Linked DNA regions of Homo sapiens. The protein of the gene in region 1 purifies or fractionates together with the protein of each later gene. This does not show direct contact. Each region holds a gene or a part of one and is shown on either strand. Other genes may lie near its edges.

Region 1 (7,451 bases):
AAAACTGAGGCACAGAGAAGTAATTAATCAAAGTCCATACTGCAGGTAAGTGGCAGAACTGAGGTCTGAACCAAGGAAGTCTGACTCCAGTGCCTACGATCATAATCACAAGTACCTCGAATACATTGGTAAGATGGCACATGACTGGTAGCTTTGCTGTAGAGGAATCTTACCTTGTCATACAAATCAATATGCCTTGTGAAAAATTTTTCAAATGCTTGAATCTTCTCAATCAAAGGAGAGCTATCGCTGTAAACTAATCCAACAAATATGGCATTAGCACAAATAATCACACAGGTACATGCACATTTTTCATGAGACAAAAGCAGCACTATATACATGGTAGATGATTTTTTTCTAATTGCTTTGTATTTTGATTACATTCATATAAGAACTAGTATAGAATGTAAACTTAAGATTCTAAAACAAATTTAGGTTTGCATAATGTGAAATGCAGACAGAAACTCTCTCTCTCTAAAAGCCCCACTATCTGGGAAACTTTGTTTTGCATCTTTGACACCTAATAGGACATGTTAGTTCAGATAATTTAGACAATAAGCTTAAACTAAAAATTATAATAAAGCCAAAGCCAGACACATAAACTAAGCTCTTACTCTGACAGAGCTGAAGACAATCACAATCACAGTCTTTCCTGAGATCAGGAGACAGACCAACACTTGACCCTGGTGGCAAAACTGAAAAGCCTTTTTTTTTTTAACACTCTAAAGTTCTACATTTTCAAATATGTCTCTCACAGAAGAACAGTACAATAAAGTAGTTTGGAAGCACAGATGGTGAAGGCTAAGGCACCTCTTGAACTCCATCTTTAGGACTGTCCAAAGATCACTTATAGTGTTCTGAGCTATCTGCTAGGGGAGCAATGGGAGTGCTGGTGGCTAATACATCCTAAAGGAACAAAAGATCATTCATGAAACAGATTCTATTGATGGAAAAAAACGAACAGATTTCCAATAAAGAAAACATTTGTAAAGTACTCTATTCATTCACAAAATGACTACTGCATGCCTGGTATGGGGCAGGGAGGGTCCTGGACCTCAAACGTCTAGTTTTCCTAAAAAAAAAAAGTATGCGGCTGGGTGCGGTGGCTCACGTCTGGAATCCTAGCACTTTGGGAGGCCGAGGCGGGCGGATAACGAGGTCAGGAGATCAAGACCATCCTAGCTAACACGGTGAAACCCCGTCTCTACTAAAAACAGAAAAAATTAGCCGGGCGTGGTGGCGGGTGCCTGTAGTCCCAGCTACTCGGGAGGCTGAGGCAGGAGAATGGCGTGAACCTGGGAGGCAGAGCTTGCAGTGAGCCAAGATCGCGCCACTGCACTTCAGCCTGGGCAACAGAGCAAGACTCCATCTCAAAAAAAAATAAAAAGTATGCACACACACACACACACACACACACACACACACCCCTCATGAGACATAAGAAACAAATGGGTATTTTAACAGCACAAAAAAGACAGTTCCCTGCACCTATACAGACTGATGTAGGTTAATTGGTATTCCTAATTATCAAAGGGAGATTCCTTACCTGTGTTTCTACACAAAGCTGTATTTGTTATTGTCCCTTGATTTCAGGCCCACTGTTCTACTTCCTGCTCTGCGATGCTATAATTCAGATCTGTACCCTACATGTCTCAGATTCTCTTTAAATTCTGCCAATTGAAGGCACTTTAGAGACGGGAAGGTGGCAGGAAGAGAAAGGAATTTATTCTTGTTTCCAACTCTTTTCAGCATCTCTGCAGCTGCAGAAGATAACGATAGTGCTAGCCTCCAGTTCCAAGCACCACTGAGTCATGCCCCCTCAGTTACCAGTGGCAACCAGCTTCATTTGCCTTAGTGGTCTAAGCACAGCTCTGTAAGGTAGCCTTCAGAAGTCCAAGCATAGCTTTGTAGGGTGCCCCTCAAAAGTCAAAATAACAGCTATGCTGTGACCTCTCCAACCTTTGAATTCCCACATTCTGGTAACCTCAGAACTTCTTTTAGTCTCTTAGCCATAAGGATGGTTGCTGCTTCCTGAATTACTACTTTCTGGGGAGTTACCTCAATATTTCCTTTCTGCTCTTTCAGTCTTCCATTTTTGTATCCAATTTCTTGTATTAAGTCCCCTTTTTGAAATACCTAGTATGGTTTCTGCTTTCCTGACTGATATAAAGTCTAAAATGCTTTTGAAACATAAACATCATTTAATTGTTTGGGTGAACTAAGATTAAAGCAGGTATATGTTAGTAAATGAATTACAGTAATACAAGATGTAGCATCCAAAGACAAGTTAAGAAAATATGATTTATGGTGCTTTTTTGTACTTTTTAAACCCTACCTTCAGAGAAATAAAGCTTCCAGCCTTTATATGGTATGAATCGATCCAATGTTGACTGCATTGACTGTGGGGTCTTTGTTGAAAGCAAAAACTGTGGGGTTTGTTCTGAAAAAAATAAAATACTAGGTTAGTAGAAACAGAGTGAACATTTTTCCAATATGCTTCTCTTTCCAAATGAGACTCTCATTAATAGAGTATCCAAATTAGGGGTTTTAGTAAAAATCTGGGACATCAATGTTCAAATACTTACTAAGGAGTAGCATGAAATAAAAGACAAACTGAAGTATGAGATAAACCGCCTTGTATGATAGACGTGAATTGCTTCCTTAAGTGAAAAAAATTGAACAATCATTGACCTCACCTACCAGAAGTACGTTTTCCTGTGGTTTTACTCAGATCAGGTCTGTGTTCTCTTTCTCTCCATTTTCCTGAGAAGTTCCCACCACCTCTTCCCCTTTTCCAGCTTTGAAATCTTCCTCGTCCAAATCCTCTGCCTCTATACTCTCCATTCATCTCTCCTAAAAGATAGATATTAAAAAGGTCTTCACCAAAACTGTAAGGAAAATAGTGCTCTTAAAAATGTATTAATAAAAAGGGAAAAATTAATGTATTCTAGGTTCAAGAGTAGCAAACAGGCTTGCAAAGTTGTACAGCTATGATACAAGACCCAAATATTCTGCAGTTAAGTTTCTAATCTCTATCGCTTTTTAAGGTATACCATAATAGTTTAATAACTATTAAATATGGTTTACGTATACTAGACGCTCACAGGTTAAAAATAAGGACAGGTACTGTACCTGTTTACAAGTCCCCATTACAGAAATGAAAATAGGACAGGTAATTAACTCTATGAAAACTTATTTGCAGTATTTGAGACTTCTTATTATAGGGCAGGACAGGATGAACATAATTCTGGCCTGTGAGACACTAGGGATACATCATCATAGCTTCTTACATACAGTCAATCCTGCAGTGTCACATCCATTTTTTGTGCAGTTTTTCTGTAAATCCAAAACTGTTCTTATAAAATACACGTCTACTTAAAAATGATTCATATCCTAAGTATACAAGTAAATAAAGATATACCTGTACGCTGCAGTGCAATTCATTATCAAATACTCTACCCAAATCCTTACTTAAAAGGGGTTTAGTTAATAAAACAAGATAGTAACTAGAAAGTTCACGATTTAACGGCATGACAGGGCTCCAATAATTAGGCATTACACATTATGAAACTGATGCTCAAAGAAATTAAGCAAACCGATCAAGATCAAAGTTGTTTGTCGACAGTACAGAGATAAAACTTTCAGCCTCCCAAGCTGAGGCGCTCCTTCAACAACGCTGCGTGCCATACCCTTCTCAAACGAGACAATATGCTGAGAACAGTAACAAATTCAAAAAAACGTTAAGAAGTAGGACTGGAGAAAGAGTAAAAAGAAACAGTTGGGTACCTGTGCTTCTTCAAATACTACTTTATTTACATCTCCTAAGGCTAAAGTTCTTACTTGCTTGGGACAGAGGTCCCAAAGCTCTCCTAGTTCACAACTGGGCCGGCTCCAGGATACGCGCAGATCTGTCCGGCCGGATTCTCCCTCCCTCCCTCCCGTAGAGAAGCACCACGGGGCTAAGAGTCTCCGGGATCTTAGCTCCTCAGGCGACTCCTGCCAAGTCCGCAGTTCTCTTCAGCCGCAGCTTTCCTGTCGTCCCCGCGCGGTGCTGAACCCCATCTGTCTCAACGGCTCGGGAAACTCAGTTTCCCCACCGCAGCTTCCAGAAGGTGTCTGTAGCGCACAGCGCCGCAAAAATGCCTCAAGCGAAAATCAGGTCTTCCCCTAAATTCTTTTTTGGCGCTTCAGTGATCCAACTTCCGCTCAAAGAAGCGGCAAGACGAGAGGGGCGGGGCGGAGTGCAGCCAATCAAGGAGTTTGGCCAGACGGAAGCCGAGAGGCTTCCGGAAGCGGTCTTGAGGTCTGGGCCGGAAAGCGGAAGCGGCGTGCAACACGTGGGGGCGGTGCCGGTCGGAGGGCTCCTAGTGCGCCAGGTTGTGGGAAGTGAGGCTGGCGGTGGCGACAACCGAGGAGGAGGGGCGGGACGCCGTGGAGCACGGCGACCGGCTGAGCGTCATGGAGGGCTCAGGGGAGCAGCCGGGCCCACAACCACAGCATCCCGGAGACCACCGCATCCGCGACGGCGACTTCGTGGTGCTGAAACGTGAAGATGTGTTTAAAGCAGTACAAGTCCAGCGGAGAAAGTAAGTCAGATCGCTGATTTTAGGGGTCTCCCGCCCCCACCTTGTAGATACCCCCTCCCTCCAGGTTTCTCCACAGAATTCTTCCGCCAGGGTGCCATTCTTGGCTCTCTCGGTCCCCATTCCCCGCCCTCGTTGTCTCCTCGGGTCTTTCTGTCACAGAAGGCTTTTCCACCAGGATCCCGTCTTCGAACCTCATAATCTCCCTTAACCCTCCTGTTTTTCCCGGAGCCCCCTCCATGATTTCATATCTGGCCGTCCACCTTCAGCATCCTTTTCAGTCTTTCCACAGAGTTCCTTCCCCAGAATTCCATTCTTGGCCCTAGGGTGCCAATGCCTCCCTCTCCACACCCTAATCACCTGTCCTGAAGTTCTTTCCCTAGGACCTTGGGATCTTCACTGTCTTTCCAGAGACACCCCCTCCTTTCTTCACTTTAGGATCTCATCCTTGTCTCCAGAGTCTCCTTCAGGTTCCCCCTTTTTTTCCACCATAGATCCTCCTTCTTCCCTAATCCCCCAGTCAGGATCTATCCCACAAAAAATGAAACGTCTCCTACCTAGTCTGGCTTTCTATCCTCTTCTCTACCCAAGCAGGATACACAGAATAGATGAAGGAGACAATTCACCACAGAGTGTGGAATCACTTTGAGTTTCCCTCGTTTTACTCACCAAAGGATTCAACGCTGGGAAAATTGCTAAAAAGCAATTTGCTCAAGGCCTCAGAACTCCAAATTAGGTTTGGTTTGTGCACCTGCTGGCTAGTATCGCTCTGTTTTATAGAAGTAAAGAAGTGGGATTTTGATAACTTTCTGGAAGGGCTGGTGAGGTTGTTAAGTCCTAAGAGCTTATTAATGGTGAAAATTTATTGGGATATTTGGATTAATTTATCTGAGAAATACAACCACAGTGTTTTTGTTTTTGAGACGGAGTCTTGCTTTGTCACCCAGGCTTTAGGGCAGTAGTGCAATCTCGGCTCATTGCAGCCTCTGCCTCCGAGGTTCAAGCGATTCTCCTGCCTCAGCCTCCCTAGTGGCTGGGACTCTGGCACCATCACACTCGGCTAATCTTTTTTTTTTTTTTTTGTATTTTTAGTAGAGACGGGGTTTCACCATGTTGGCCAGGCTGATCTCGAACTCCTGACCTCAGGTGATCCACCCGCCTCGGCCTCCCAAAGTGCTGGGATTACAGGTGTGAGCCACCGCACCTGGCCACAGTTTCTTTTGAGCTAGGTTATTGTATTACTTTTGACAGAGATAAGTTGAATGCAATGTCAGGAGAACAGCTTTCTGCAGACTGGGAAGTATGAGATTTGGAATTTCTGATAAGTACTTACTTCAGATGAATTCTTTTACTCCTGGTTTAAGCAAACTGTTGACTGGTATTTAAGGTGAAGCAAGCATCATAAAATAGTCAAGAAACAAGTCTCCAGAGCACTAAGCTGGTGATAACCAAGCTTTTTGCACAAGCACTAATTTAGTAAAGATAAAAAGTTTCTTTTATGAGGGGTATGTTTCTTTTAGTCCGGAAATGTAATACCTGCACCAACCTTTAACCATTTTTAAATTCTTCTTTTTTTTCTTTTTTAAACTAATTAATTTTTTTTGCAGAGACAGAGTTTCACTATGTTGTCTAGGCTAGTCTCCAATTCCTGGGCTCAAGTAATTCCGGCCACCTCAGCCTCCCAAAGTGCTGGGATTACAGGCATGAACAGTAGTTGACCTTCCCCTTTTGTGGTGCCAAAAGGGTTGGAGACCACTGCCCTAAACATTTATTTGGAAATACTTTTCAACAGGCCCTCTTCTTCGCAGAAGTCATAGTGGCAGTTTCCATTTTATTTAGGAAATGACTCTCTCAGCTCAGCTGCATCCCAGGTCAGACTCCCTCATCACCCTTGGGGCTACACTCATCTGATTGGGCAAAAAACAGTCCAGGCTCTCTGAGAAGTAGACTCTGCAAATCCTACTCCTTCCCAGTAAAGATGTGGCCTCCTTATCCCTCTAACGGGGCCCCACATTCCCGACTGGGGCAGTGACCTGTCAAACCAGCCAGTTTTAAGTGACACGCATCATCCCCTCTGCATATCACATAGGCTCTCAGAGAGGTAAACCCACCCATCTCAGATCCAGTGTTTTTGTTTGGTTTGTCTGTTTGTTTGTTTTGTGAGACGGGATCTCACTCGGTCCCCCAGGCTAGAGTGTAGTGGCGTGAACTTGGCTCACTGCAACCACTGCCTCTTGGGCTCAAGCAATCTTCCACCTCAGCCTCCTCAGTAACTAATTTGTGTACTTTTTGTAGAGAAACTCCTGAATTCAAGTGACCCTCCTGCTTCAGCCTCCCAAGTAGCTGGGACTACAGGTGTGTGCCACTACACCTGGCTAATTTTTTTATTTTTTGTAGAGACGGAGTTTTTCCCCGTCAGCCAGGCTGGTCTCAAACTCCTGGACTCAAGTGACCCACCTGGCCTCCCACAGTTCTGGGATTACAAGTGTGACCCACCACACCTGGCCAGATCCAGTGTTTCAAAGCACCTAGGTGATTAAAGGATGAGGATAGGGGGTGCACATCTGGGCTGAGCTGAATTGCAACATCTGAGGAGGTTTACATTAGCAAATATTTTGAGTGTCTGTTACATTCTGTTGTATGTAAGTATCTAGGGACCCAGCAAATAACAAGAATTGGCCATATCTGAATCACTTACGATCATACAGGATTTCCCTCAGATGGTTTGAGTAAGCTTTAATGAAGATGTGACTCAAAAGTGTGGCCGATTTAGGGAACCAATAAAGGTGACACACCCAGAGACCAGCAATGGTGGTAAGCCTCTGACACGGGAGCGTGGGTGATGTGGCAGTATATTCTGTCGTAATC
Region 2 (7,303 bases), on another chromosome or scaffold:
CAGGAAAGAAGGCGATCCACATGTCCCCTTCTCTTATCTCACTGCTGTCCACCTTCTCTGAATTCACCTAGACTTCATTCCACAATGGCAAGTGATGCTCATGTGAAAGGCTGGGGGGAACCTGACCAGCTCTCTCAGCCCATGACTTCCACACCCTCTCATCACCTGAAGACAAAGGGACCAGCTAGCACCCTGTCCTACCTCCAGCATCGGGACTCTGCTCGAAATCCTTGGACATTGTTGTCCCCTCCAATCAAGTATACGAAGTTGTTGAGCACCGCGATGCCCTGGTTGGACATGCGGGGGGCCAGGGAGGCAGTGAAGTGCTTCCACTCTCCCAGTAAGGGGTTTAGATACTTGGCCTGGTCGCTGAGGACAGTGGACGGCGTGGAGTGAATGCCCCCGAAGCCCACAACGCACTGGAAGTCCGACCGCAGCTCCGTTTGCGGGCTCTGCAGGCTGGGCTGTAGGCTCTCGTTCCGGTGGTACATGAGGGCGCTGGCCACTGTGTCCCTCAAAGGGCTGGGGTCCAGCTTGTCATGCAGCCGCTGCAGGACCTCAGCTTCCATCAGCGGAAACCGCACTGTCTCAAGGAGCTTTGGGGGCTCGTGCAGCGAGATCTGGTCAGCCTGCACCTGCTCCAGGCTATAATGGTAGAGAAGGGCCCCCTCATATACCTCGGTCTCGCAGGAGACCTCCAGGCGATTGCTGCTGAGGAGGGAGTAGACCTTCTCCAATGGAAGCTGGCGGTACTTGTCAGTCCGAGAGAAGGCCACAAAGTTTTTGAGGATATAGGTGTCCAGTTGCTCAGTCAGGCGGCTCAAGTCAAACAGCTCTGCCAGCCGGTAGACATCGAGAATGTTCTCTTCGTCCACCCAGGACATGAGGAAATCACAGCAGAAATGGATAATTTCTGGGATCTGCAGAGAGAATGACACCCATTCAAGCCTGGGCTGGTGAACAGCATCTGGGGGTGGGAGAGAGAATGATGGCAGAAATACGGGCTGTTGTGGGCCAGGCAAAGCAGAAGGGAAGTCCTCCTTAATTGTCCCCGACCTTTTCTGACACACTGGAGACTGGGGCTTACTGCAGACTAGGTTTAAGTCCTGGTTTGGAAACATACTGGGTGACAGGATATACAGCATGTTTTTTTTTGGTTTTGTTTTGCTTTTCTTTGAGACAAAGTTTCGCTCTTGTTGCCCAGAATGGAGTGCAGTGGCAGAATCTCGGCTCACTAACACCTCCCCCTCCCGGGTTGAAATGATTCTCCTGCCTCAGCCTCCCGTACAGAATGTTTTTAACCTCTCTAAGCCTCAGTCTCCTCATCTATAAAACGGGGATCATTAAAGTGAAGAGGAACATGATGAAAATGAGAGAGCACATAGGAGTGGACCCTTGATATATGTCAGTTCCCTCTTAGATCAAAAGTACTGGCTCGGCCGGGTGCGGTGGCTCATGCCTATAATCCCAGCACTTTGGGAGGACAAGGTGGGTGTATCACGAGGTCAGGAGTTTGAGACCAGCCTGACCAACATGGTGAAACACCGTCTCTACTAGAAATACAAAAATTAGCTGGGCGTGGTGGCGCGCGCCTGTAATCCCAGCTACTCAGGAGGCTGAGGCAGGAGAATCGCTGGAACCCAGGAGGCGGAGGTTGCAGTGAGCCGAGATCGCGCCATTGCACTCCAACCTGGGTGACAGAGCGAGACTCCGTCTAAAAAAAAAAAAAAAAAAAAAAAAAGAAGTACTGGCTCTCCAGAAAAGCAGGAAGCAGCACAAATGGTCACTGTGTCATATATCTGTGGTTTGGAAAGGACCTAAGACCATCCCCATCCCTACCCTAGGATTCTCTGGAAGAGCCTGCCTCTCCAAAAGCGCTGGGACCAGAAACAAACCTGGCTTTTTCCCCCGCCAGAACATCCACCCTGGTTCCCTAGAAGTGCTCAGAGCCTCTCAGACACCTAACCAATACCCACCCAGGAACCTGATTTAGAATTATTTTTCTTTTTTCTTTTTAAAATTTGAGACAGGGTCTTGCTCTGTTGCCCAGGCTGCAGTGCCATGGCAAGATCATAGCTCACCGAAGTCTCAAGCTTCTGGGCTCAAGTGATCCCTGACTCAGGGTTCTTGAGGTTCCCAGCTGGGTCAAGACCCACTTGACTCCAGTAAGTGCAGGGGCTCCCAGGTGGCCATATCAACCCTTCCCAGCCATGGGGAAGCACTAGTGGTTTGAAAGGACGGCAAGAGAGAGAATGACACTGGAGGGAGGTGGGAACAAGGCCACAACCAGCAGGCTGTTAAAGGCCACCCTGTGAACAGACAACCAAATCTTGGGAGAATAGGAGACAAAGGGAAGGGCCCTAGGGAAAACTGCCTGGGAGAACAAACCAGGTGTTGATAAATTATTTAGGAAAGCAGGATTTTAGAGTTTCAGTGGGGCCCCCCAGTGCCCACCTCCTTTCTTTCCATGTTCAGATTGAAAATGACGAGTACCTTGACCTCTCTGTGACCCAGACAGCTGCAGGTTCTCCCAGCAGGCTTGAACCCAAACCAGGCCCTTGAACATTCCCAGGCACTGATAAAGGCATCAAGGTTGTTACCCAAAACACTGAAGGAAAAACTGGTTCTGGCCCTGAGACAAATTCCTTAAACCCTCATAGAAACTCCATACACTAACCCACTCTGTGGGCAAGCCTGGGTAAAGCCTCTCTTTTCCCTTGTCTGTCTTGAGGACATGCTACATCACTCTATACATAAGTTCCCCTAATAAACGCTCTGGCCAGATCACCCTGGTGTTTGATGCTTCTTTCTTTGGAATCCCAAAACGGCTCCATTTCAGGATGCTGTGGGGTCCCCTCTTGTGGGAACCCCCTTGCTACCAACTCCAGCCATGTGTTCAATGCAATAAATCAGTTTCTCTAAAAATGGGAATACCTGGCTTATCCAGGATCATCAATAAATTAACCATTACACATGGAATAATTCTGCTGGTATTTATGTATTTATTTATTTATTATTTTGAGATGGGGTCTCACTCTGTTGCCCAGGCTGGAGTGCAGTGGCACGATCTCGGCTCACTGCAAGCTCCGCCTCCCGGGTTCACGCCATTCTCCCACCTCAGCCTCCCAAGTAGCTGGGACAACAGACGCCCGCCACCACGCCCGGCTAATTTTTTGTATTTTTAGTAGAGACGGGGTTTCATCGTGTTAGCCAGGATGGTCTCGATCTCCTGACCTCGTGATCTGCCCGCCTAGGCCTCCCAAAGTGCTGGGATTACAGGCGTGAGCCACGGCGCCCGGCCAAGGTATTTAAAGCTTATCAATAAACACTAACTATAACTTTTTTAAAATTCAAAAGACATCTAATATTGCTTGCAAGGTGACATGCTAAGAGCTGGATGAGACCTACCAAATGTCAGGCAGGTATGTGCCCTACATGAGGTATCCCCATGGTGCTTTGCTAGGCCCTGACCAGCTTCACTTGACCTTCTTTTTTCCCTTTTTGCCAGTCTTCTGCTTTGCCACTTCTTCCCAAACTACTAGGTTTTCCTAAAATTCTGGTTTGTCATGGGCCAGGGTCCTGAAGACCAAGTTTTGGGCAGAATGTGAGCACAAACAGCCCTGAAGAAGCCTGGGCAGCAGCAGCTCCTTGAGAGGACCCTGCTGACTCTCCTTTCAGTCCTATTTTTAGAGCAGTGGGCCTTCTGTTCAGTGAAATCTCACAGAGGAACCAGCCTGGGCTCAGGATGTGCAAAAGCCCCATACGAGGCTCACAGAAGGGACTGCATTTGCTTGGGGTAACCCAATAGGACAGTGTTACTGGGAATCAGACTCAGGCCTCTGGGGACACCGTGAAGAATCTGGTCCCAGGCCTACTGCAGGGCACAACACATGGGGGAAGCCTCCAAAAGTCACTAGCTATGTGAACATACATGATTCTACAGGCCTATGGACTTGACATGGTTATGCCAAGTAAAACCTGCTATAAAACAATATTGTGAAGAAGCCTGTTTTTTTTTGTTTGTTTGTTTTTTGTTTTGAGATAAGCTGGCATGTAGTGGTGTGGTGATCACAGCTTACTGAAGCCTCCACCTCCTGGGCTCAAGTGATTCTCCCACCTCAGCCTCCCGAGTAGCTGGAACTACAGGTGCATGCCACCATGCCCGGCTATTTTTAAAGTGCTTCTGTAGAGGTCTCGCTTTGTTGCCCAGGCTGATCTCAAACTCCTGGCCTCAAGCAATCCTCTCACCTTGGCCTCCAAAAGTGCTGGGATTACAGGCATGAACCTCCAAGCCTGGCCCAGAAGCCTGATATGTTAAAAAACTAAGATAGGCTGCTGCCTCTGAGATGACCTCTGAGGCACTGGGGGAGATGACCCAGGGCTGTCGGGAGCACTGGCCAAACCAACAGAGAGAGACTGCAGGCCTCCAAGCTGACTGGTGAGAGAGGGAAAGTGATGTTAGAAAGATGATCTGGTTTCAGTGTGTGTGATCACTGCAGGGAGAAGAAAGAAATGGCAGAAACATACAGATGGAGGCCAGGCAAAAGGGAAGGAAATGGAAACACAGAACAGAGATGGCTACAAGCAATACCGAGAAGGATGACCTGTCCTCACATGGACGCAGGGAATTAAGAAGGTGGACGGGCTCAAGGAGCCACTGAGGTTGAGCCCAGGGAACTGGCAGGATGGTCACAGGACACACAGAGCAGGGGGACTGACAGGGGAGCTCCGGGAGAGTGGCAGGTGTGGAGGAGGAGATAGGACAGCTGGACCTGAGCCATGCTGGGGGAGATGTTTCAGAGGCAGCTGAATCAGGAGTTAACTGCTGCCAGGGTGGAGAATTGGATGAGGGTTCCCAAAGCAACAATGACAGGGATGTGGGGACAGAAGAGATCTCTAAATAAAAGAACAGGGGGAAATTCTTTTGTTGTAAAAGCCAACTCCATCTACTCACCATGCAGGTATGGTGAGACAAGTCAGTCATCTCAGATCAACCCACCCAGCATCCAGGTCCTATCCACCAATCTGAGAACAGGGCACAGGGAGGCTGCCAGGGCCCTGTCACATGGGGTGGCACCTCCACATGCCCCCGAACAGGTTGGTTTTCCTGTGACTTGAGTTGTTTTTTTTTAATTGCGTCAAACCTGCTCTCATGGGAAGAAAGGTCAGAATGATGAACTTAGCATAGCATTTTGTTTCACTTTTAAGAAATGTGGGAAGAGGTGACTGTCAACTCCTATCAGGCCTCTGCCTGATAGCTCAAAGGCACCTGCAGGCCCAGTCCCGTGTAACTGCACCCACACCACTGAGAATAATCATCCAAAACATAAGTCACACTGTCAAAGCCTCAGAAAACTTTTTGAATTCTGCAGGAAAACAAGTACTTAAAGTTCAATAACAGGTTGGGTACAGAGGCTCACACCTGTAATCCCAGAACTTTGGGAAGCCAAGGTGGGAGTATCACCTGAGGCCAGGAGCTTGAGACCAGCCTGGGCAACATAACAAGGCCCCATTCCTATAAAAAAATATATATATATATAATATCAGCTAGGCACAATGGCACGCATCTTTAGTCCCAGCTACTCAGAAGGCTGAGGCGGGAGGACCACTTGAGCCTAGGAGGTGGAGGCTACAGTGAACTATGATCATGCCATTGCATTACAGCCTGGGTAACAGAGTGAGACCCTGTCTTTAAAAAAAAAAAAAAAATAGGCCAGGCGCAGTGGCTCACACCTGTAATCGCAACACTTTGGAAGGCTGAGGTGGATCACTTGAGGCCAGGGGTTCAAGACTAGCCTAAGCAACAAAGCAAGCCTCTATCTCTATAAAAATAATTTAAAAATTAGCCAGGTGTAGTGGCACATGCCTATAGGTCCTAGCTATTTGGGAGGCTGAGGCAGAAGGATTGCTGGAGCCCAGGAGGTTGAGGCTGCAGTGAGCTGTGATCGTGCCACTGCACTCCAGCCTGGGCAAGAGAGAGAGAGCTTGTCTCCAATAAATTGAATGAGTGGATGGATGGATGGGTGGATGGATGGATGGATGGATGGATGGATGGATGCATGCATGGATGGATGGATGGATGGATGGATGCCTGCCACCATGGATGGATGCATGCATGGATGGATGGATAGATGGATGGATGGATGGATGGATGGATGGATGGATGGATGGATGCATGCATGCATGGATGGATGGATGGATGCGTGCATGCATGGATGGATGGATGGATGGACAGACAAATAGATAGATAAAGTTCAGTAACAAAACACATAAGTTTTCAAGAGACTGAAGTGGCCCAGTGAGGGGACAGGCAGGAAGGGCCCTGGCAGCAATGCTGGTGGATGCTCCCCATTGCCAGACCCCAGAGCACACAGGACGTCCACATGCAGCCTCGGGTCAGCCTACCTGCTTATGTGCAGGATGCTTTCAATGACAGGGAGACTCAGACAGTGGGGAAACAACCAGCAATAGAGAAGAGGGCAAAGGCAGAGGCCTGGGGTGTCTAGAGCGGCTCTGCTTGAGCTCCAGGAACAACTCCAGAGTCTTCCCCACTTCATGGCCTTCGTCACTGCTTGGTCTCCTCACATTCCTGACCCATCTTCAAGCCAATGCTAGTGCCCGGCAGGCATCATGGGCATCTCAGGGAACCCCACCTGGGTGTGGGTCTGCCTTGCTAGATGAGACATGCCTCACCTGAAGCTGGCAGGCAGCCACCAGTGTCTCTTGTACATTGCTCAGGCTGAGCTCCAGCTCGGAGGTGTATATGAAATGTAGGATTTGGCACATAGCATTGTAGGACACACCGTGGATCAGGACCTCTTCCTGTTCCATCTCCTTCAATCCCCCAGCAAACATTCCTCTGCAAAGTGAAGACACAAGAAAATGGAGTTATACCAACAGGGACTTAAGCCCATGTTGCCAAGAGTGACAGCATTCAGAGAAGAACCTGGCGCTGGTGGCAGGGCCCTGGTAGTGGGCTGACCCACTCTGTGCTCTGAGTGAACTGTGTGCATGCATGAGCCATCCCACAAAAGGATCCTGACGAAGTCTGGGCAGCCATCCTGGAAATTGTCCTGTTTCCCTTTTCATGGGCCCAAGGAGTCCCATGTGAGCTTCGGGAGGTGAGGCCACAAGCAGCTTGCTTCTGCTGTGTTCATCAGTGCAGTTCCTGGATCGGAGCAGTAGCAACTCCAGAGCACATTTCAAAGCAATGAATTAATTAATGGGAAACTAATAAAAGTCATTTCATTCAATGTATATTTATGGAGTTCCTACCAAATGCCAAGTATCATTCAAAGAGCAG

What was found. The genes of interacting proteins can lie anywhere in the genome.
Region 2: the proteins of TRMT6 (region 1) and KLHL22 purify together in Homo sapiens (co-immunoprecipitation; 3 studies listed by BioGRID and IntAct, with this or other methods). This does not show direct contact.

Annotation. Positions count from the first base shown.
Region 1 is NC_000020.11:5,947,413-5,954,863, reverse strand, and holds the start of TRMT6 (tRNA (adenine(58)-N(1))-methyltransferase non-catalytic subunit TRM6), read left to right. Parts: upstream 1-4,330; 5' UTR 4,331-4,458; coding exon 4,459-4,586; intron 4,587-7,451. Other genes in the region: DNA helicase MCM8, read right to left, coding at 174-256, 2,336-2,440, 2,701-2,848. UniProt on the Homo sapiens protein: Substrate-binding subunit of tRNA (adenine-N(1)-)-methyltransferase, which catalyzes the formation of N(1)-methyladenine at position 58 (m1A58) in initiator methionyl-tRNA.
Region 2 is NC_000022.11:20,464,657-20,471,959, forward strand, and holds part of KLHL22 (kelch-like protein 22), read right to left. Parts: intron 6,860-7,303; coding exon 6,694-6,859; intron 921-6,693; coding exon 202-920; intron 1-201. UniProt on the Homo sapiens protein: Substrate-specific adapter of a BCR (BTB-CUL3-RBX1) E3 ubiquitin ligase complex required for chromosome alignment and localization of PLK1 at kinetochores.